Homo sapiens: one gene and its partners. The protein of the gene in region 4 purifies or fractionates together with the protein of the main gene of each other region. This does not show direct contact. Each region holds a gene or a part of one and is shown on either strand. Other genes may lie near its edges.

The links.
Region 1: the proteins of TBCD (region 4) and WDR12 fractionate together in Homo sapiens (co-fractionation; one large-scale study listed by BioGRID). This does not show direct contact.
Region 2: the proteins of TBCD (region 4) and TPM4 fractionate together in Homo sapiens (co-fractionation; one large-scale study listed by BioGRID). This does not show direct contact.
Region 3: the proteins of TBCD (region 4) and TSN fractionate together in Homo sapiens (co-fractionation; one large-scale study listed by BioGRID). This does not show direct contact.
Region 5: the proteins of TBCD (region 4) and NMI fractionate together in Homo sapiens (co-fractionation; one large-scale study listed by BioGRID). This does not show direct contact.
Region 6: the proteins of TBCD (region 4) and TOM1 fractionate together in Homo sapiens (co-fractionation; one large-scale study listed by BioGRID). This does not show direct contact.
Region 7: the proteins of TBCD (region 4) and TCP11L1 purify together in Homo sapiens (affinity purification with mass spectrometry, with the first as the bait; one large-scale study listed by BioGRID). This does not show direct contact.

What each region holds. Positions count from the first base shown.
Region 1 is NC_000002.12:202,873,761-202,877,217, reverse strand, and holds the end of WDR12 (ribosome biogenesis protein WDR12), read left to right. Parts: 3' UTR 1-2,957; downstream 2,958-3,457.
Region 2 is NC_000019.10:16,096,995-16,100,494, forward strand, and holds part of TPM4 (tropomyosin alpha-4 chain), read left to right. Parts: intron 1-3,500. UniProt on the Homo sapiens protein: Binds to actin filaments in muscle and non-muscle cells. Plays a central role, in association with the troponin complex, in the calcium dependent regulation of vertebrate striated muscle contraction.
Region 3 is NC_000002.12:121,758,651-121,762,150, forward strand, and holds part of TSN (translin), read left to right. Parts: intron 1-59; coding exon 60-156; intron 157-2,758; coding exon 2,759-2,874; intron 2,875-3,500. UniProt on the Homo sapiens protein: DNA-binding protein that specifically recognizes consensus sequences at the breakpoint junctions in chromosomal translocations, mostly involving immunoglobulin (Ig)/T-cell receptor gene segments.
Region 4 is NC_000017.11:82,765,565-82,769,064, reverse strand, and holds part of TBCD (tubulin-specific chaperone D), read right to left. Parts: intron 2,799-3,500; coding exon 2,697-2,798; intron 646-2,696; coding exon 499-645; intron 1-498.
Region 5 is NC_000002.12:151,269,970-151,272,668, reverse strand, and holds the end of NMI (N-myc-interactor), read left to right. Parts: intron 1-936; coding exon 937-1,043; intron 1,044-1,793; coding exon 1,794-1,976; 3' UTR 1,977-2,199; downstream 2,200-2,699. UniProt on the Homo sapiens protein: Acts as a signaling pathway regulator involved in innate immune system response.
Region 6 is NC_000022.11:35,320,394-35,323,893, forward strand, and holds part of TOM1 (target of Myb1 membrane trafficking protein), read left to right. Parts: intron 1-1,348; exon of another isoform or gene 1,349-1,454; intron 1,455-1,565; coding exon 1,566-1,644; intron 1,645-2,605; exon of another isoform or gene 2,606-2,634; coding exon 2,635-2,784; intron 2,785-3,102; coding exon 3,103-3,237; intron 3,238-3,374; coding exon 3,375-3,500.
Region 7 is NC_000011.10:33,063,572-33,067,071, forward strand, and holds part of TCP11L1 (T-complex protein 11-like protein 1), read left to right. Parts: intron 1-2,258; coding exon 2,259-2,440; intron 2,441-3,500.

The DNA of each region.
Region 1 (3,457 bases), on a different chromosome or scaffold from region 4:
ATATCAGAATGCTTCCTAGTATATTATTGGAGAAAGAACAAACAAAAGTTTAAATTGATATAAAATGCATATAATGGAACAAGCAACCCTGCAAAAAAAAAAATATATATATATATATACCATCTGGGAATTTCTGATAATAACATTGAAATCTGTTCACACAGTCTAAAATTCTTTTGATGTATCGTAGTTTTGAAAAAAAGGTAACAGTTTACTATATATAACAAATATAAGGAAAATATTAAATTTTTTGAAAGATACTAGTTTTTATTTTTGTTCATTTTTTAGAGACAGGGTCTCACTATGTTGCCCAAGCTAGAGTGCAGCGGCCCGATTATAGCTCACTGCAGCCTCTAACTCCCGGACTCAAGGGATCCTCCCACCTCATCCTCCTAACTAGGACCACAGGCGCATGTCACCACATCTGGCTGATTTTAAAATTTTTTTGTGGAGACAGTCTTGCTGTGTTGCCCAGGCTGGTTATGAACTCTTGGCCTCAGGCAGTCCTCATGCCTCAGCCTCCCTAAGTGCTCGGATTATAGGCATGCCACTGTGCCTGGCCAAAAATACAGATTTTTTAATAGATATTACTATGGCTCCTATTCTTAAAGGAAAAAATATGACATTTTAAGACTATATGCAAGGGATATTCCAATAATATCTTTTTTATTTAAAAAGCCACTAATTAGAATCAGATTTCATTAGGCAAGTGAAATCCAGATTTTACTAGCCAGAAACTGCCAGGTGTAGAAACAGCAAGAACATTTTAGTCACTTCATTGTTGACATTTTTGACTATCATAGATTAAGTATCAAACACAATAACAGTATTTTGTTATATGAACCAAATATATCTCTTTTTACGAGACATAGTCTAGCTCTGCCATCCAGGCTCAACTCCTGGGTTCAAGGGATCCTCCTGCCCCAGCTTCCTGAGTACGTACCTGGGAGTACAATTGCATGCTGCCACACCCAGCTATTTTTTTTATTTTTGTGGAGATGGCGTCTTGCTATGTTGCCCAGGCTGGACTCCAACTCCTGACCTCAAGCAATCATCTCACCTTGGCCTCAAAAGTGCTAAGATTACAGGCATGAGCCACTGCATCCAGCCTGAACCAAATATATCTTTATTATAACTTAGGAGAGAAACGTTTTTGGCTGGTTAGTTTTACAGAATTAAACCTAATGGTTGTTCTAATAGCAGTTCCAATGATTTGCAGATTTGAGGAAGTAAATTATTTTCTTACAGTGTCCATAAAAGTAACAATGAAACTATATCCTACCATAATAATCCTCTATAGGTAATAAATTATTTGCATTTTATAGGAGAGAAAAATATATGTTAAAGTTTTTGAACAGTCACACAGGCAGGAAATAAATGGCAGTGAATTTGAACTTGGACTTATCTTGGACAAGCTCTTAACTGGTATATATTTTGTCAATCTTATGTCGTGCACAAGAATGATGTTTTTATAAATGGAAAGAATGAGTGTGGAAGTGTCTTCACTTGCCTAACAGAAAGGTTATATGTGGCTGGGCGCCGTGGCTAACGCCTGTAATCCCAACATTTTGGGAGGCTGAGGTGGGCATATCATCTGAGGTCGGGAGTTCAAGAATAGCCTGACCAACATGGAGAAACCCCGTCTCTACTAAAAATACAAAATTAGCCAGTCATAGTGGCACATGCCTGTAATCCCAGCTACTTGGAAGGCTGAGGCAGAAGAATTGCTTGAACCCAGGAGGTGGAGGTTGTGGTGAGCCAAGATCGCGCCATTGCACTCCATCCTGGGCAACAAGAGCGAAACTCCGTCTCAAAAAAAAAAAAAAAAAAAGTAATACATAAATTTAAGTGACATTTGTGGGTACTAAATTACAATAATATGTTCAGCTTTGCATTTTTTTGCCTTTAAAATTAATTTCAATTTTAGCGTGCCACTAAACGTATTACTGTAATAGTATATAAATGTATAAAGATCAATTTCTGTATATTCTAATAGGAATTGTATATAAGCAAAAATGAATTTTAGAAATTATCCTATTATTCATGTAATTATGTCATTCATGTTATTTAAAGGAAACCACAATGCAGACAGGTTAAGTACCTAGTGTGAAGGTATGTAACCAATTAATGGAGCTGTGCGACATACATCTGAGTAATAAAGACTACAGAGAAAGTATCTTGTTAGGTACTATCTGATACAAAGTTTAGAAACATGTCAAACAATTCTATGTATAGTTGGTGAAAGTGTAATAACATGGCTGAGACTTAATACCAGATGAAGTTCAGTGGTTTCAGGGGGAGGAAATAATTTTTAAAACGATGTCGATAACACTTCACATTTAAAATCATCATAATAATTCTAATTCTAGAATTGTGTCTAATTCTAATACTGTTTCTAGCTTTGCTTGAATAAACAGAAATGTAGTAGGGAAGAGACAGAATGTTTAGCTTGCAGTATCTAATTACTCATTTGGGTATCTGGGAAGATAGCTCTCCATGGCCCCACTGTCACTGACCTATAATGCTTCTCCTGACGTCTTCGGTAAAATCCAACAGATTACAAAGAAACTGGAATGCCTTGAAGAAATAGAGCTTTTTGTGTGATGTCAGATTCAATAGACCTCTAATCCTTAGTAAAACAGTACAAAACAGTAGAATAATTTTTAGTGTTTTCTAATATCAACTGAGGTTTTATTTGGGAGATTAACCAGAGGTTTGCACAAAAACAAAAGTGAAGACCATTAGTCTTTAAAGAAACTAAGACTCTAGGTTTGGATCCCATTTGTGGAGCCCTACATTCCAAGTCATCTAATGTTCTTGTCTAGTTAGCTTGTAAAAGTCTATACAATGGAGGAAAACCCCTTTTTTCCCCTTAGTATAAGTGTATTATATGTTGATAGAAAGGATAGAAAGTTAAATAACAGTTCAGTAAATGTACTTCTAAATGAAATTTAAAAGTACTTTAAAGGTGTTAAATTATTTCACTTTCTAAAGAGGTTTTATGCAACACTAAAATGTAATGACTGAGCTGCCTCCTTTTGTTAAGAGACTAGTGCAAGTAGAGTCTTGCTCTGTCGCCCAGGCTGGAGTTTAGTGGCACAATCCCGGCTTGCAACTTCTGCCTCCTGGGTTCAAGTGATTGTCGTGCCTCAGCCTCCCAAGTAGCTGGGATTACAGGTGCACGCCACCACATGGGGCTAATTTTTGAATTTTTAGTAGAAACAGGGTTTCACCATGTTGGCCAGGCTGTTCTCAAACTCCTGACCACAAGTGCTCCGCTTGCCTCAGTCTCCCAAAGTGCTGGGATTATAGGCTTGAACTACCACGCTCTTCCTAGTGCAAGCCATTTAAACATTGTATCCAACAGCTAAAGAAAGAATTCATTCCACAGGCATTTATGAAATATGAGAGACTTGACTCCTGTCCAGGAGAAGCATCAGCAGCTAGCTCTACATTA
Region 2 (3,500 bases), on a different chromosome or scaffold from region 4:
CCGGGCTGGAGTGCAGTGGCGCCATCTTGGCTCACTGCAACCTCCGCCTCCTGGGTTCAAGTGATTCTCATGCCTCAGCCTCCCGAGTAGCTGGGATTACAGTCGCGGACCACCACACTCAGCTAATTTTTGTACTTTCAGTAGAGATGGGGTTTCACCATGTTAGCTAGGCTGGTCTGAAACTCCTGGCCTCAACTGATCCGCCCACCTCAGCTTCCAAAAATGCTGGGATTACAGGCGTGAGCCACTTTGCCCGGCCCAGGCTATGCTTTGCTTTTTTTTTTCTTCTTTCTTTTTGAGACGGAGTTTCGCTCTTGTTGCCCACGCTGGAGTGCAGTGGCGCCATCTCTGCTCACTGCAACCTCTGCCTCACGGGTTCAAGCAATTCTCCTGCCTCAGCCTCCCAAGTAGCTGGGACTACAGGCATGCGCCACCATGCCTGGCTAATTTTGTATTTTTAGTAGAGACAGGGTTTCACCATGTTGGCCAGGCTGGTTTTGAACCCCTGACCTCAGGTGATCCACCCGCCTCGGCCTCCCAAAGTGCTGGGATTACAGGTGTGAGCCACTGCACCTGGCCCAAGCTATGCTTTTCTAATGATCAAAAACATACCAATTTGTCCCAAAATTTCAAATAGTGCATCTGGTTCTCCCCTGCATCCTACCACCACTACCACCTCAAATTATCACAGATAATTGACATTTAGATGTTCAAGCCACATCTTCCAGACTACCCCTTGAACCTGGAAATGGCATGAAAATCTCCAACTAGATCCTGAATTTTCGGTATCCATTGTTATTCCTCATCCTATTTTTTTGTCCAGGTGGGAAGCTCTGTCCCCATTACTCTCTCTATTCATCCATTCCTCCAAAATGCACCTCCCCTAAACCACCTCCACCTTTCCACCCTCAGCCTCTCCCTGCTCCTAACTGCCGTCCATCCTGAACTTCTGCAAAAACCATTCCCCTCACACATTGCCATATATATGCCCTTGGAAAGATTACAGACTGTGTAGGGGGCTGGTTTTTGTTTGGAGTCTGTGTGTTTGTCCCTGGAATTTCTCCAGGCATTTCTGGACTCCACCCTTTGAAGTAACTATGCAGCCTGTCTATCCAGTTATTCTACCTAACTAAGCACATAAGTGGAATTTCAGAGATTAGTGCTATGGCCGGGCACGGTGGCTCACGCCTGTAATCCCAACACTTTGGGAGGCCAAGGCAGGCAGGTCACTTGAGGTCAGAAGTTCAGGACCAACCTGGTCAACATGGTGAAACTCTGTCTCTACTAAAAATGCAAAAATTAGCCGGGCATGGTCATGGGGGCCTGTAATCCCAGCTACTGGGGAGGCTGAGGTGGGAAAATCAATCACTTGAACCTGGGAGGCGGAGCTTGCTGTGAGCCAAGGTCGAACCTTTGTACTCCAGCCTGGGCGACAGAGTGAGACTCCGCCTCAAAAAAAAAGAAAAGAAAAGAAAAGAGATTAGCACTATGGAGGTCTACACTATCTGTTGATAGTCTGTGAGCCTTGTCGTGATTCTCAAGGGCAGTTAACACTTTCAGGGAAAGTCATTTTATCTCAGACCTAATAACAAAATAGATGCTAAAGCATCTGAGTGACAAGATGAAGCGAAGTCAGGATTTGTAGTCAAGAGACCAGGGTTTAAGGCCTGGCGCAGTGGCTCACACTTGTAATCCCAGCACTTTGGGAGGCCAAGGCAGGCGGATCACTTGAGCTCAGGAGTTTGAGACCAATCTGGGCAATATGGCAAGACCCCATCTCTAAAATTATTCATAATAATATTTTATTTTTAAAAAATTTTTTAATAAAATAATAAATAAAGAGACCAGGATTTAAAATCCTAGCTCTACTACTTTAACCATGCCAACGTGAACAAGCTGCTTAGGTTTTCTGCAAAATAAAGGTGATATCTCTGTTATGAGGATTAAATGAGATAATGGAGAAACTGGCTCGTCCAACATAGTCAGCATTCAGTTAACATCTATTCACCCAGACTGGATAGGCCCAGGTCACTGATCTGTCTGATAGAATCCTCCCAGGTCATAGTCACTTGACTCTGTGTGTGTGTGTGTGTGTGTGTGTGTGTGATGGAGTCCCACTCTGTCACCCAGGCTGGAGGGCAGTGACGCAATCTCGGCTCACTGCAGTGTCCGCCTCCCGGGTTCAAGTGATTCTCCTGCCTCAGCCTCCTGTGTAGCTGGGATTACAGGTGTGCGCCACCACACCCGGCTAATTTTTTGTATTTTTAAGTAGAGATGGGGTTTCGCCATGTTGGCCAGGCTGGTCTCGAACTCCTTACATCAAGGATCCATGGTGTCTCATGCCAGTAATCCCAGCACTTTGGGAGGCCGAGGTGGGTGGATTGCATGAGACCAGCTTGGGCAACATGGCGAAACCCCATCTCTACTAAAAATACAAGAATTGGCTGGGTGTAGTGGCACGCACTTGTAGTCCCAGCTACTTGGGAGGCTGAGGTAGAAGGATCACTTGAGCCCAGGAGGTCAAGGCTGCAGTGAGCTATGATCATGCCACTGCACTCCAGCCTGGGCAACAGAGCAAGACCCTGTTTAAAAATAAATAAATAAGAAAGGCTGCCATCTTCTGCAGTCATTTTTTTCTTTCTGTAAATTTCCAGGCTGATGATATCACATTTTATGAGGCATTTTGCTTTCCCCCAGCATTTTAATGAGTCTTGGCCTTGTCCCTTATCAGCCATCACTTACTGCAAACTAAGTTCTCTCTCGTGCTCTGTCACGCATAGCTCTAAATGGCGTCTTTTTTCTCTCTCTCTTTCTTTTTTAATTTAAATTGTTTCATCAGCTCAGTTACTTAATAACATGCCTGTAGAATGGCTTAAATTTCGCATTTACCTGGGGTTTGTCTCCGTTCTCCTGGATTCATAGACAGTTACACAATTATGTGTATAATTTAAACAGCCATTCCCAGAAGCTCCGAAGGAAAGATGGGTTACAGGATTTTAGATTTAACTATCAAAGGCTCAGGGGCTAATTAACTAGCACTTGGGTGGAAATTTATATTAAGTCACACATATCTAGGACTGAAATCTTCATGTAGCAGCACGTCATAGGTTCTGAAGTATTTCTCCTTTATTCCTCATCATAACCCCCACACCACGCATTGATATCGTTACCCCCATTTGACAGACGGGGAAAACAGACCTAGGAAGGTTAGATGCTTACTTAAGTGATACAACTGGAGCTTAAGTTCAGGTATTCTGACTCAAGGGTTACCAGAGTTCACAAGGAAAAATACAGGACACCAACTTAAATCTGAGTTTCAGATAAGCAATGAATAATTTTTTAATCATAAGTATATCTCTTGCATAAGTACATCTCATGCAACATTTGGGATATACTTACACTAAAATATTATTTGTGGTTTATCTGAAATTCAATTTAACTGGGCGCCCTGCATTTTATCTTACAACTGTGACTCCCAAATTTGGTGCTTGTTCCTTAGT
Region 3 (3,500 bases), on a different chromosome or scaffold from region 4:
AGCAAGAACTGTATTTGAAATTTGGTTAAGTTTTTCATTTGGTTATCTTTTGTGACTAGTTCCAAAGAGGTGTTTGAAAGCTCGAGAACATTTTGGTACAGTAAAAACACATCTAACATCTTTGAAGACCAAATTTCCTGCTGAACAGTATTACAGGTTTGTAAGAAAAATAGCATTATTTTATAATGTTAAGTAAAAAAAAGGAGAAAAATTATGTGTACCAAATGATTGCTTACAACTAGGCAAACATCCTGTGTAGAAGTAACAAAAAGAGAAAAAACCGAACTAATAATGGTCATGACAAAAATTGGTGATTTTATTTTTTTCTTCTTTTTACTGTCTAAATCTTAAGGAACATGTATTACTTTTGCAGTGAAAAAGCAATTAAAAAGAAAATGTGGTATGAGGGTCAAAAGTGAGAATATCTTTTTGCTATATTCAAGTTTCTTGTGAAATTGGATGAACTATAGTTAGTGAAATAATGAGATTAGGTGGCAGTATATATATGGAGTCGAGTTTTACTTTGAAGCTTGAATTTCACTGCCAAGTGATGTAATTAGCTAATATTTTATGCCATGTTTTCTTATTAAAATCAACACTGTTGATTTTAAGATACACCATTATTTTATGTACCAGTAGGGAAGGAAAATTTTGCCAGTCATAAATGTGAAACATGGGCCAGGCGTGGTGGCTCACACCTGTAATCCTAGCACTTTGGGAGGCCTAGGTGGGCAGATCACCTGAGGTCAGGAGTTTGAGACAGCCTGGCTAGCATGGCGAAACCCCGTCTCTACTAAAAATACGAAAATTAGCCAGGTGTGGTGGCTTATCCCTGTAACCCCAGCCACTTCAGAGGCTGAGGCAGGAGAATCGCTTGAACCAGGCAGGCGGAGGTTGCAGTGAGCCAAGATTGTGCCATTGCACTCCAGCCTGGGCAACAGAGTGAGACTCCATCTAAAAAAAAAAAACAACTTGTGAAACATGGATTGTGAAATGTCTCCTGGTTTCATAGGTGTTAAACTGGGAAAAACTGCACCTGAATCAAAAGTTTCTACTTATTTTAATTTTCTTACTGAAAAAGATGTTCTTTTAAGACGTATATATCAGCAGTAAATAGGATGAGTATTTTCAGGGGGTGGGTAGTATAACCTTATGAGAATATTCTTTTAAGGGAGAGGTTGACAAACCACTAGTGGCTGCTGCCTCTGGGAGCTAAGAATTGCTTTTGTTTTTTCAAGAGTTGTTAAAAAAAAGAAAATCCCAGATAAGAATATGTAACAGTGAAAGCGTCCCACAAAGCCTAAAATATTTACTACTTGGCCCTTTACAGAAAACATTTGCTGATCCTTGCTGTAAGGCAGGGGTTCCCAACCCCCAGGCCATGGACTGGTACTGGTCTGTGGCCTGTTAGGAACTGGGATGCACAGAAGGAGGTGAGCGGTAGGTGAGCGAGTGAAGCTTCATCTGTATTTACAGCCGCTTCCCATCACTTGCAGTACTGCCTGAGCTCCACCTCCTGTCAGATTGGTGGCAGCATTCGATTCTCATAGTAGTGCGAACCCTATTGTGGACTGTGCATGCGAGGGATCTAGGTTGCATGCTCCTTATGAGAATCTAATACCTGATGATCTGAAGTGGAACAGTTTCATCCTGAAACCATCCGCCCCCCTTCTGTGGAAAAATTGTCTTCCATGAAACCAGTCCCTGGTGTTGAAAAGGTCAGGGACTGCTGTTGTAATAGCTGAAGCACAGAGAGAGGTAGGACAGTAGAACAGGTGGGGTCTTTAGAGACCATCTTCTCTGGAGGTCACACACAGGCTGCCCTCTGGCTGGATTTGGCCTTCAGAAGGGTTTGTGTGACCTGCATTATGTTGAGACCTTTTTTTTGAATGTATTGCCACATTTGAGAATCAGGAGGCATTGCATAAATATCCACAGGTTGTAAAATTTCCTTTTTTCAGGCTTCTAGCTCAGTATTCTATTTTAAGTGCATTTGTTTAGTGATTGCAAATGGTAATTTTGTGAATCAGAATTTTCTTGGTATTCTGCACTCAAATCAAAATGGAGGAATACGTTGAGGATGATACATAACTGCAGTTGTCTTCAATCATCAGTTACAAATTTTTATTTTTTTCAGAGCAGTATCACTGTTCTTACTGATTAAATTTAGAAGGCACAATTGCTCTTGTCATCTGTAATCTTCAGTTTTCTTTTTTCTGTCTTTTTTTTTTTTTTTTTGAGACGGAGTGTCGCTCTGTCGTTCAGGGTGGAGTGCAGTGGTGTGATCTTGCGCACTGCAACCTCTGCCTCCCAGGTTCAAGCAGTTCTCCTGCCTCAGCCTCCCGAGTAGCTGGGACTATGGGCGCCTGCCACCACGCCTGGCTAATTTTTGTATTTTTAGTAGAGAGGGGGTTTTGCCATGTTGGCCAGGCTGGTCTTGAACTCCTTACCTCAGATTGATCAACCTGCCTCTGCTTCTCAAAGTGCTGGGATTACAGGCGTGAGCCATCGCACCCGGCGTAAATTTTCATACTCATCAAAATTAGACCATATTTGTCACTGATTAAACTTAATTGTTATAAATTCGAACTTGTAAAATTAATGCTAAATGTCATATTTCTCTTTATATATTGGGGGTTTGTGTAAGATTTTATTTGAAAAATGATCGCATTTCTAAACCGTTTGAACATGGCTGTATTAAACCCATCTTTCTGAAGGTCCCTAACCTTGGAGGCTAAATGTGCTTATTTTCATGCAGATTTCATGAGCACTGGAGGTTTGTGTTGCAGCGCTTGGTCTTCTTGGCAGCATTTGTTGTGTATTTGGAAACAGAAACACTAGTGACTCGAGAAGCAGTTACAGAAATTCTTGGCAGTAAGTGTCTTTATTAGTGGGATCTGCAGAATCAGGCATGGTTGCTTACTTTTTGGTGGAAAGGGTGGTTGTACTTTGTTTATTAAAACAAACAAGAATTAACTAAAAACCACTTATAGTTGTAGCTTGGTATCTGAGGATGATGCTTCCAGAGCTCTTCCAATACCCAAATCTGAGGATGTTCAAGTCCCTTATATAACTGGTGTAGTATTTGCATATAACCTATACACATTCTCCCACATACTTTAAATCATCTCTAGATTTCTTAAAATATCTAATACAGTATAAGTGCTATGTAAATATTTTTTTTTTTTTGAGACAGAGTCTCTGTCGCCCAGGCTGGAGTGCAGTGGTGCAATCTCCGCTCACTGCAACCTCCACCTCCCAGGTTCAAGTGATTCTCCTGCCTCAGCCTCCCGAGTAGCTGGGATTACAGGTGCCTGCCACTATGCCCAGCTAATTTTTTGTATTTTTTTTTTTTTTCCGAAATGGAGTTTTGCTCTTGTTGCCCAGGCTGTAGTGCAATGACGCAATCTCAGCTCACCACAACCTCCACCTCCTGGGTTCAAGCATTTCTCCTACCTCAGCCTCCTGAGTAGCTGGAATTACAGGCATGCACCACCACA
Region 4 (3,500 bases):
TTATGATCCAATAGATAACTAATACAATAAGCTGTGTTTATATGCATAATATTTACATCAGGAAAAGTTCGGAGAAAATAAACAACTTATCTCTTGGCACTAGAATTTCATAAATTTAAATTTAGTATTTTTCTTGCTTATCTTTATTTTCTAGTTCTCCTACAAATGAGCATCTATTATTTATATAACGTTAAGAACTAAATGTAAAATGGGTCCTTATTCTCTCTCACCATGCCACTAAACCCTTCCTTATCTGCCATGATTACCCTCAACAGAGTATTTGCATCATCTACAAAGAAATGAGATTTGCTAACTCAACCTGACCCCTACATGAATTATCACAATTTCAAAATAAGTTATCCTATGGGATTTTACCCCACTGAAAAAAACAGCAGTTGAATACATATCAGAAGCTTACCGAGTAAACCACTAACATCAAGACAGCATGAACATGAAAGTGAGTACTAATTAGCAGCTAATTATCTGCATGATATTTACCTCTGCTATTTGGAGAATACGGTCCATTATGGACATTCGTGCTTGCCCAGGCTGGGTGAGGAGGTTCCCGTCAAGGCGAGAAAAATCAAAAGGGATCAGGCAGGTCACGGAGAGCCAGAGCAAAAGCATGTAGCGGGTTTCCCAAGCCTAAAAAATTAAACCACGGGAAGAATGAGTCTTGCTTGAAAATCACAGGCCACTGGCCACAATCTACTCAAAGTCACTGCCCTCCATGCCCACCCAATGCCTATGAAAGCCATTCAAATGCCATCACCCTCAGGGCCAGAAATGCAAGCCGTTCACCAACTCCTCGCCACATCCCCCCCGGAATCCCCACCACACACACCTACCGCCGTAACTTAGCTCAGCAGACAAGAGAGACATCAAAATGAACAAAGAAAAATCATAATACATCAGTATAGCAGCTTCTCTTCGCTGGCACCTCTCCACATACAAACTGGCCTTTTGAAAAAGTGAAAAACAGATAAAAAGTAAAAACACCTAAGAATAAAGAAAAAAGGCCAGGTGTGGTGGTTCACACCTGTAATCCCAACACTTTGGGAGGCCGAGACGAGCGGATCACCTGAGGTCAGGAGTTCCTTTTTTTTTTTTTGAGATGGAGTCTCGCTCTGTTGCCCAGGCTGGAGTGCAGTGGCGCAACCTCGCTCACTGCAAGCTCCACCTTCCGGGTTCACGCCATTCTCCTGCCTCAGCCTTCTGAGTAGCTGGGACTACAGGCGTTTGCCACCATGCTAGGCTAATTTTTGTATTTTTTGTAGACACAGGGTTGCACCGTGTTAGCCAGGATGGTCTCGATCTCCTGACCTCGTGATCCGCCCACCTTGGCCTCCCAAACTGCTGGGATTACAGGCACGAGCCACCGTGCCTGGCCGAGGTCAAGAGTCCTAAACCAGCCTGACCAACATGGAGAAACCCTGTTTCTACTAAAAATACAAAATTACCCTGGCGTGATGACACATGCCTGTAATCCCAGCTACTCAGGAGGCTGACACAGGAGAATCGCTTGAACCTGGGAGACAGAGGTTGCAGTGAGCCAAGATTGTGCCATTGCTCTCCAACCTGGGCAAGAAGAGTGAAACTCTGTCTTTTTAAAAAAAAAAGAATAAAGAAAACAATTATCAACTTCTAATAAAAAAGGAGTACCCTTATTTTCAGTAATTAGTAAAAAACATCCCAATTTGTCCCTGCAATCATTCCACTGGGGGGCGCTAGAAGTACTAGGGAAAGAAGGGCACGGAGTGCAGGGCAGCAGGGAAATGCCCCACAGCGCTCATCAGTCACATCCACGCCGAGACAAGCCACCGCACTGCACGGTTATAAACCGTGTGCTCCTCCAAATACATACCACGCAGAAGACAGCGAGCATAGCAGGCCCCGCTGCCGTCTGAGGCAAGGCCCCTGACGAGGCCGGCCCTGGGCTGGTATCCAGGGACCTGGACACCAGCAGGGTTCCCACCAAGCCCTGCCTGATGAGGTCCCTCGCTGGCTCAATCTGCACAAACCGTGTGCTTTACGCTGGCACCTGCTTTCCTGCTGGGGGTCTGGAATTTCGTTTCGTGCCAGGCAGAGGTGTCCATGTGGCCAGACCCCAGTGAAAGCTCTGGGCACCAAGTCTCAAACGTGCTTCTCTGATAGACACCTCACAGGTGTGGTCACATCTCACTGCTGGGGGAATGACACAGGCCCTGTGGGACCCAACTGGAGGACCCCGGGAGCTCCCGCCTGGTTCTCCCCAGACCCCACCCATGTGCCTTTTCCCTTTGCTGATTTTGCTGTGTATTATTTTGCCATAACAAGTGACAGCCAAAAGGAGGACTCTATGCTGAGTGCTGTGAGTCCCGCTCAGGAAGTATCAAACCTGGGGGTGGTCTTGGGAACCCAACACAGTTATACTTACACAGTTAAAAAAACATAGAAACAATGACGGATTTATTGTTAAACTACACCTAGGCATAATTTTTTTTATAAAGGGGCTATTTTAAACGAAAATAATTTAAAGCAACTTGTACAAGAAGTAAAGGAAAAGTGAAAAGAAAAGAAAGAAAAGAGGAGTGACACAAAACAAAGGGAGATAAAATGAAAGAAACAGGAAGGGGAAGGTGCAGCAGGGTGGGGCAAGCAGGGAGGAAGGACAGGCACGGAGGGCTGGAGACGAGGGGGGAGGCAGAGACACTCACTTCATGGTCCTTGGGATTCTGAATTGTGACCAAATCTAAAACAGGCTCTACATCGGCAACTTCATGAGGAAATAAACGAAGAAATGTTTTATAGCCTCGAACCTATCAAATAAAGAGATGCTGAATTATAACATTTAAAAATACAGAGAGCAGCAAAATTGCCTTTCTACCCTTTCATCAAAAATCACCAGCTACGCGACCCACTGATCAAAGAGAATTCTGTGACATTACAGTGACACAATTTAGTAAGACCGTAGTCACCCCAAGAAAGCTACCCATGGCCAAGAGCGATGGCTCACACCCGTAATCCCAGCACTTTGGGAGGCCGAGGCAAAAGAATAGCTTGAGACCAAGAGTTGGAGACTAGCCTGGGCAACATAAAAAATTAAAAATTAGACAGGATGGTGGCACATGCCTGTAGTCTGAGAGGATGAGGCAGGAGGGAGAATCATTTGAGACCAAGAGTTCGAGGCTGCAGTGAGCTGACTGCATCACTGCACTCTAGCCTGAGTGACAGAGCAAGACCCCATCTCTCAAAAAAAAAGATTTCCTTCCTAAATTGGTAGTGTTATTCATTACCATATTTACGGAATCAGTCATTAAATATGTTCATTTATATGACTGTCCTCTGACATTTATGAGGAATAAGTGCCTACAAACCGCAAGGGCCCAAATTCATTAACACTTCCCTGAAGCTCAGTGATACCACGCCTTCCGGAGAAATCCTAACCTCAAACAGAGGAGCTACAGAGGCCTGCGTGTCCTTGGCAGCTCACCCGCAGTGTCCTCTCGCTGGCCAAGGAC
Region 5 (2,699 bases), on a different chromosome or scaffold from region 4:
TGCTTCCACCTTTTGCCTATTGTGAAAAATACTGCTCTGAGCATTAACGAGCAAGTATCTGTCCGAGTCCCTGCTTTCAGTTGTTTCGGGTATATACCCAGAAGTTGAATTGCTGGATCATATCATGTTCTATTTTAATATTTTGGGGAACTGTCATACTGTTTTCTACAGTGGCTGTACCATTTTACATTTCTATCAGCATTGCCTCAGGGTTTCAATTTCTCCATATTCTCGCCAATGAGGGCCTACACTCTTAATCATTGTACCATATTGCTGATCCAAGGTAGATGAGTGAGAAGAGTCATAAAAAACATGGTTGTATATTCCCAAGAACTGTTTTTGTTAAATGTTACAGTCTTGACACACATCCTTTCACCACTCTAGGAGAAAAAAATACTGCTAAAAAATAGACTATTCTTTGTGTTGTAGAAAACTGATGAATTTTTATTTCCTTTCAGTTTTTCTAGATGACATTCAATCCCCTCCCTGCTTTGGTTAACATCATTACTTCAGTTTATTGAATATATTGAAAAAAATGTATATAGTATTCTAATCATAGTTTTCACTTACAGCTTTTGAGAAACTGGGAAACAGTCCAGTCTTGTTAGATGAGTGGGTTACTTTCTGCAAAAGACTATGGTATTTTTTATAGCTCAAAGTAGATCTGTCTGAGGACATTGCAACCCTTTGTGCATTGATTGACTGCAGTGAATAATTCAAGATGGAATGAAGGCTTTAAACCTCATTATTGTTTGGTCTTGTAGTTTTCAAAATTATGTACTGTGAAGTCTTCAAAGTGGGCTTTAGAATTTCTTAAAAATTAATCTTTTAACTCAATATTTACTGTAATAGTGTTCTCTTTGAAGGAAGTTTTAACTTTGGTTAAAAATGCTTATGATATAAAAAAGACAAGTATTGTTTTTGTTTTGCTTTTAGTGGCTGACAAGATTTTGAAAAAGAAAGAATACCCTCTTTATATAAATCAAACCTGCCATAGAGTTACTGTTTCTCCATACACAGAAATACACTTGAAAAAGTATCAGGTAAAGTCATCTCTGTTCTCTCATTTTCAGAACTCACTGCCCAAACCCACCCCACAAAAAATAAAGTTGTTGTGAGTCTGTTACTTATGCATCTTATCAATGAGGGATAGCAAAATGGTTTCTTTACTTCATTTTTGCTTGGTGCAAAATGAGTTTGTCTTTTGAAGGAGCATTTTAATGCAAAACTGTACTTTATTATACAATTTTTAAAACTGAAATTACTCAGATAATGGCACAATTTTTATTTTTGTACATGGAGACATAGTTGCATTTCTCTCATATGTCTACTGTCAGTGAGCATGAGAAAGAATTCCTGCCTACTTTCTCTGAACTCATTATCTTTACCCCAGACCTGCTCCCTTTTCCTCTTCCTTCTCAGGTATCCAATGGTACCACCATCTACCTACTCCACCAACTTAAAAGCTAGAACTCATACTTAACTCTTCAGTTTGCTTCACCTCCAACATTCATTTGGTCACTAAATCTTGCCAGCTCCACTTCTGACTACCTCTTTACCTGGTCTTTCTGTTCCCAGAGCATCCCTCCTTTCCTCTGTGTTCCATAATGCCACCAGAGTTCTCTTTCTAAAACTCAGATCTGACTTGGATATTCTCTTGCTTGGAAAATCTTCCTAAGATTTCTTGTCTCTTCTAAGATAAAATAAAAAATATTAAGCAGAGATTATGAATGTAAAGTTTTGTAATTCAAAGCTCTTAGAAATCTTTCTATTTATCATTTTTTCCTTCTTAGATATTTTCAGGAACATCTAAGAGGACAGTGCTTCTGACAGGAATGGAAGGCATTCAAATGGATGAAGAAATTGTGGAGGATTTAATTAACATTCACTTTCAACGGGCAAAGAATGGAGGTGGAGAAGTAGATGTGGTCAAGTGTTCTCTAGGTCAACCTCACATAGCATACTTTGAAGAATAGACTTAACAGAATCATGAAAACTATAGCTTTTTAACCCGGATTACTGTAAATGTTTGACAAAAATGAATATGCTTTTCCTTAAAAAATGAAAACTTTAATTTTTACCATCCATTTATGTTTAGATACAAAACTTATTTCCATGTTTCTGAATCTTCTTTGTTTCAAATGGTGCTGCATGTTTTCAACTACAATAAGTGCACTGTAATAAAAAGTTTTGTTTATAGATTATGTGTATTGGTGCCATGTCTGCTGAAATCAACCTTAAGTGATTCAGATGTCCCCTGCCAGTGCTGGCTCATCCTGTTATGGTCTTGTGGGCCAATTCAGTTGTGGCCCCATGCCCACCAATATGCAGACTTGACTCTTAACATTTTCCAAAACAAAGGCAGTTACATTCAGCAGTTGGTGATTCCTGTAAACTCAACTGAAGATTCGAAGGACTTCAAGAGCAACCATTTACCACTGTGCATAGCATTTCACTCCACAACTCTAAAGGTTCTCAGAGCTGAGTGTGATCTTTTTCTTGAATTTCTGTTCACCCAAGTGCCAAGTGTCCCTTGATTCCTTCCAAGCCATCCCCTCTCCAAATAGAGCTCGTAAAGGACTAGCTTTTTCTTTCTTTTGCACTTACAATGGAAACAATTGGTATAAGAGTTTGAAAACCTTGGCATGGAGAGAGAGGTAAATACAAAGTTAGTGACTCATCACTTATCATGCTCGATG
Region 6 (3,500 bases), on a different chromosome or scaffold from region 4:
AGAGGGGACAGGGAGAGCAGGCTGGCACCCCAGCTTCCAGGGGCCTCCCAACACCGTGACCCCTAGGCTTCTTCAGCCCTCCCCGACCTCCCCCACACTCAGTGTGGCCTCCTCTTAGTTCCTCCAAGGCATCAAGCTCCTCTGCACCCAAGACCTTGGTCCAGGCTCTGACCTTGACCCAAACTGCTCTGCCCCCACTCCCCCCAGGTGGTCCTTCCCATCTTTCAAGGCCCAACTACAAGACCACCCCCTCGGAGGTCTTTTCTGACCACCCCCATCCTCACCTCTGCTCTTTTTCCAGGACCTGCTTATTCCTTGCTCTTCTTTGGATCTCCCCGCAAGGTGGGGAGGAGGCAGGGCCATATGGTCTTGTTTGCCACTGTGTCCCCAGCACCTAGCATGGTGCTACATACATATTGGGTGCTTAATAAGAGTTGAATGGGCCAGACATGGTGGCTCACACTGGTAGTCTCAGCGTTTTGGGAGGCTGAGGCAGGAGGATCACTTGAGCCCAGGAGTTCCGGGCTACAGCGAGCTGTGATTGCACCACTGCACTCCAGCCTGGGCGACAGAGTGAGACTCTGTCTCAGAAGGAAAAAAAAAAAAAACTTGAATGGAAGGGTAAATGGACAGATAGAGCAGCTGGCCAGGACGGGGCATCAGAACACTATGCTAGCTGGGCTCAGGGACTCATGCCTGTAATCACAACATATTGGGAGGCCGAGGTGGGAGAATCATTTGAGCCCAGGAGTTTGAGACCAGCCTGGGCAACATAGCAAGACCCCATCTCTATTTTTGTAATGAAAACATTATGCCTCCAGGTTATTTGTTCTTAAACTTGAGCATGCATAAGAAACCCTTGGGGAGCATGAGAAGCATTCAGATTCAGGGGCCCCACTCCCTGAGAATTTGGTTCAGGTGGTCTAGGGTGGGGACCTAGGGTTCTGCTTTTTTTTTTTGAATGTCCTTTGTTTTTTTGAGACAGGGTCTCACTCTGTCGCCCAGGCTGGAGTACAGTGGCGCAATCTCGGCTCTCACTCTGTTGCCCAGGCTGGAGTACAGTGGCGTAATCTCGGCTCACTGCAACCTCTGCCTCCTGGGTTCAAGCGATTCTCCCGCCTCAACCTCCCAAGTAGCTGGGATTACAGGGTCATACCACCACGCCCGGCAAATTTTTGTATTTTTAGTAGAGACAGGGTTTCACCATGTTGGCCAGGCTGGTCTTGAACTCCTGGCCTCAAGTGATCCACCTGCCTCAGCCTCCCAAAGTCCTGGGATTACAGGCATGAGCCACCGCGCCCGGCCAGGTTCTGCACTTTTAACAAAACGCTCTCATCTTTTCTCAAAGTGACTCTGCTGCTGGAGGTCCAGGGGCCACAGGTTGTGAGTCCCTGCTAAGCAATGGGCTAGGAAGATTCTGATGTGATCAGAACCTGGCTGGATACACAAAACAGGTGGGGCACAGGGAGGATGGGCCAATAAGAACTGTTCCAACTCTCCAGGGTCTCTGGTGTTAGGTAAGGGGGCTCTATTCCTAAGCCCACCCTTTTTCTTGTCCTCCTTAGTCCCAAAGATGCCCTCCGAGCAGTAAAGAAGAGAATCGTGGGGAATAAGAACTTCCACGAGGTGATGCTGGCTCTCACAGTGAGTGCCCCATCTGTCTGTCCTGTGGCAGGACTACGGTCCACTGAAAGTCACCTCCCCTCAGACCCAGCAGGACTCCCAGCCTCCTCTGAGCTCCTCATTTGAGAGCTGGAAAGGTCTGTAGGCAACGCACTGTCCTGTCTACACTGCAGGCGGATGCAGAATGGCAAGAGGCCATTTGGAAAGGTTCTCCCCAATCCCCCAGCATGGGAACAGACGCTTACATCACTCCAGAACCACTGGCAGGGAGAGCCTGGGCCAAAGGACCTGTGGGTGACATTGAAGCTCAGTAAACCCAGGCCTCCGCGGGGGCAGGGAGGCCGGCTGACTGAGTTGGGTGCTGCTCGGCACTTTGGTGCTCTGGCAAATGAATGTAAAATAAATACCAGTGGCTGAGAACAGTCTTGCCCACACCACTGAACCAGCCCAGATCTCAGGGCGGCCAGACACACGTGGGCCTCCTAGCCGTCAGCATGGGTTTGGCTGGGGAAGATATAAATGCTGTCCCACCCTCCTCCACAAGCAGCATTTATATCCAGGTGAATTGGCTTAAGCAAAAAGCAAAGGCAATTCCTGCAGTGGGAAGTGGAGAGTGGGGAGGGAAGTTCAGTGCCTTTTCCCTGGGCCACAGGCTCACCAGTCGATTGACATCTCAGATGCTCCTTGATTTCCTCTTGGAGAGCCCCTTCTCTCTAGACCATGTTTAGCTCAGAGACAGCATTGGGATTCTGCGTGCACTGACGCCAGTCAGGGAAGGAAGTCCAGCCCACACACCATACCTCTGCCCACCCTAGGCCGTGCCCTCCAGTAAACAAGTCCCCCAGTCCTGGCATTGTCCCAGTCCTCCACATTCAAGGGTCTCACTCCAGGAAGTCCCATCTCCTCTCCCGGGCCTCCTCTCTGGGACACAGGAGGAGCCACGAGGGTGGGGGTTCTGAGCACCTCCTCTCCTCTGACCAAGGTGCTCGACGGCACCTCTCGGCCCTCCAGGTCTTAGAAACCTGTGTCAAGAACTGCGGGCACCGCTTCCACGTGCTGGTGGCCAGCCAGGACTTCGTGGAGAGTGTGCTGGTGAGGACCATCCTGCCCAAGAACAACCCACCCACCATCGTGCATGACAAAGTGCTCAACCTCATCCAGGTGAGTGCCAGGACAGGGCAGGGCACGGCCAGGAAGAGCTGTCAGTGCAGGAGCTTCCTGCCCAGTGGAGAGTCGAGGCCATCGTGTTTGTCCCAGGCTCCGCTTCTCATTTCGGGGCGTCTCGGTTGTCGGCTGGTGGGATGTTCTGTGGGGAGGGAGGCTTGCCAACTGCGTGCTTTGCTGTGGAGTGGGCAGGGCAGATGTAGTTAAAAAAAAAAAAAAAGCAGGGAAAGAATGTCTGTTCTCTGTCTGAGTGCCAGGTGGGCAGGCTCACAGGTGAGCTGTGGTTACCGGCTGTGTCCCCTTGTCCCCTCTCAGTCCTGGGCTGACGCGTTCCGCAGCTCGCCCGATCTGACAGGTGTGGTCACCATCTATGAGGACCTGCGGAGGAAAGGCCTGGAGTTCCCCATGACTGACCTGGACATGCTGTCACCCATCCACACACCCCAGAGGGTGAGAGAACTGCCGTACCGGGAACCAAGGGAAGGGAGGCAGGACTCATCCCCAGAGACATCACCAGGCTGGCCCCTGACTTCCTGGGCTCTTGATGTTCCCAGGAGCCCTCACTGATCCTGTTTTCCTCCCACTAGACCGTGTTCAACTCAGAGACACAATCAGGACAGGATTCTGTGGGCACTGACTCCAGCCAGCAAGAGGACTCTGGCCAGCATGCTGCCCCTCTGCCCGCCCCGCCCATACTCTCCGGTGACACGCCC
Region 7 (3,500 bases), on a different chromosome or scaffold from region 4:
ATATTTTTTTCTTTTTATGTTTTTCACAATACATACTTCTAACTGCAAGACCTCTTTAAGAAGATGACTAAGAAGGGATTCCCCCAGTGTTTCTCTAAATAGCTGTTTTGTTATGTAGACTCCCCCTCTCTTTTTGGGGGGTACGTGAGCTTCTTATCACTAGCCTCAGATCCAGATACTTCTCTAAATATCTTTCTTATAAGTTCCTTATTTTTCCTTTCAAGAAGTTGTGAGCTTAAGGTTTCACCTCTTGCCTCTGAGTTCCCCGTTTTGTGCTGGAGGAAGCTCTAAAGAGAATGTCAAATTGGAGATGGGAAAATGTTCCCTTTGAACTGTGGCATGTTCTCTTCTGGAGGGAAGTTCTCAGCCTGACATGTCTATTTAAAAATAGCTGTGGGAGACCATCCAATACCTCCCTTTTCCCCACCGCTGATCATCTTCCCCAGGCCTTAGATACCCCTGCTTCTTCATCCCATAAATATCCCTAAGCCCTCTCTATGGAGAGGGGGATGTGAGACCTGTTCTCCAGCCTCCTCACTTGGCAGTCTTATGAATAAACCCTCTCGTAAAAAAAATAAATAGAAAAGAAAAGAAAAGAAACGCTGTGGGGAAGATGGTGATGGTCCCTGGGGACAGCTGTCTACTCCAGGAATTGATCCTTGGCAATCTGCATCCTAAACTCACGTCCTGCTGTTGGGAAGCCACAAAGCCATGTGAAGTCAGAAAACAGGCCGACGATGAGTCCTTGGGATTGTATTTGTATCAGCAGAGGATTCTCAATCCTCAGGGTTTTTACTTCTTGGCTGTGACCCACATTGTTCATGTCTTGACTTGGCAAATCTCAGTTTCTGACAGCAAGAAAGGTCCTTAGAGTCCATTCGATGAGCCTGTAAACTCTCAGATCAGATTCCCATCTGTGCAGCCTTTCCCTTCTCCTTCCCTCAGCCACACGGGTGGGGGCGCTGGCATGGTAGGACCCAGGACTGTCTTTAACATGGGGGAGGCAGTCATGGGAATGTGCTTGCTTTCCGGGAGGCTTTAGATTGTTCTCTGTCACTTCTACTCTCTGTGCTTCCTGTTTCTTTCTCTTCCTCTTTATTTACTCGCCAGTTCTTACAAGCTTCCTTTGTGCTGGGTGCTGAGCGGATACCAAGATGAATAAGTGTAGGCTCTGCCTGCAAGGCAGTCCTCCCTTCCATTGCTCTGGGATTTTTGTTGTTGTTGTTTTAAGATGGAGTCTCACTATGTTGTCCAAGCTGCAGTGTAGTGGCTATTCACAGGCATAATCGTAGTGCACTGCAGCCTCGAAATTCCGGCCTCAGTGATCTTCCTGCCTGAGCCTCCCAGTAGCTGGGACTGCAGGCACCCACCATCGCACCTGGCCTTCCATTGCTCTGTACAGGGTGACTGGCTGTCCTAGTTTGCTAGGGACTGAGTGAGGGTTCACAGGACTTGGGAATTTCCATTTGAAAACTGGGACAGTCCCAGACAAACTGGGAGGAGTTGGTGACCCTAGGTCTGTGCCTCATTATACTTTTCTTCCTAACAATAAGTATAACTTTTATTTATCGAGTGCTGGCTCTGCCAGCCACTTTATATGTAGCATCTTTCTTCAGCTTTAAAACAGCCCTGTGATGTGGGAGTCCCCATTCTGCAGAGGCCCGACAAAGTTGGGGATGCATGCATGAGGTCATGCTATTTTTTTTTTTGAGAAGGAGTTTCACTCTTGTTGCCCAGGCTGAAGTACCAAGGTGCAATCTCAGCTCACTGCAACCTCTGCTTCCTGGGTTCAAGAGATTCTCCTGCCTCATCCTCCCGAGTAGCTGGTATTATAGGCATGCACCACCACACCCGGCTAGTTTTGTATTTTTAGTAGAGATGGGGTTTTACCATGTTGGTCAGGCTGGTCTTGAACTCCTGACCTCAGGTGATCTGCCCACCTCGGCCTCCCAAAGCGCTGGGATTACAGGCGTGAGCCACCGCGGCCAGCCGGGGAGGTCATGGTATTAAGCACGGAGCCTGGCTTTACACCCAGGCCTGTCTGTGTTCTTAGTGAGGGCGCTATACTGCATCCTTGCTCAGGAGGAACGGCTCTGAGATAGAGGGGTTATTTCACACCAGACTCCCTCAAAGCTCTGACACACTAGCGCAAACCCTGAGGGAAGCTGCAGAGGCAGGTGTGGGGGCTGTGGCGCTCCCGCCCTCTGCTGGCCAACCTGGACCTGCAGCTCAGCGATGGCCTCTTCTATTCATTACAGACAGTTTTAATGGACCAGTCTCGCTTCCACGAGCTCCAGTTGCAGCTGGAACAACTGACCATCCTGGGGGCTGTGTTGCTGGTCACCTTCAGCATGGCAGCGCCAGGAATTTCCAGCCAGGCCGACTTTGCTGAGAAACTCAAGATGATTGTGAAGATTTTGCTAACAGATATGCACCTGCCGTAAGTGGAACTTTGATGCGTGGATGGGACGCAGTGGATGTCAGAGAGCCGACTGGAGTCTCCCAGAGGGGTCTCCCACTGTAAGGCAGAGCCCAGGGCCACTCTCTAGGAACTGAGAAGAAACCTTGCTGTCTCAGTTGGTTCACTTGGCGAAGACCCCAGCAGAGTTTATTTAGGGTCATAGGGTCAAAGTTAGAATCTGCTGCAGGGTTAGCAGAGCTCTAGGATAGTGGCTTCAAAATGTGTGTGACTAGCCGAGTAGCCTGTCGGGCCTTAGAGGCCACACCAAGGAGTTGGGTTATTGTCCTAAGAGCAGTAGGGAGCCATTGAAGGATTTGAAGCAAGAGGGGGAACGTAATTAGATTTATGCCCTTAAGTTTAAATTTTGGCATGGGGCACATAGTAGATGTGAGGGAGCATTTAGGAGGCGAGAGAAGAAGTGGCTCGGGCTGGGGGGTAAGCCATGAGCAGGGTGGGGAGCGCTGGTACCAATGGTTGCTTGCCTTGAGGAATTGGAGATCCCGGGCTTAGAGGTCCCGCGGCCCTCCATTCCCTGTTAGCATGCTCCTCCCGGGGCCTGGCTCGGTGTTGAGTGCCATCAACTCATTTGTTCTCCCTACGCAGGGAGCAGGATGCTGTCTGACCCCTTCCTTCTTTAATGGGGTTGTCTTTGTCTCCTGACCTCCAAGGTTCTTGTGTTTGTTTGTTGAGTGCTTTATTCCTCTCCCAAAGCCATTCAAATGTATTAAACTCTTACTGGAGCTTATGAAGAAACTGGAACCCAGAGACATTAATTGGGACAAAAATGTTTGTGACTAGGACCTGCAGTAAGAAATTCATTTTCCATTGTGACCTAGTACACACTTAACACACGTGTAACAGAAACGAAAACTTCTCAAACTGGAACTGACCCTAACTGTGTTTAATGCAGCCTGATTGTTTCTACTCTATTCTTATTCCATTAAAAAAAAAAATTGGTTGCTACCCACTGAATTGCTTTCATAACCGACTAACAGTGAAAAGCAGAGCCCTAGAGGAAGGTCATGAGAGAAACCAGCTA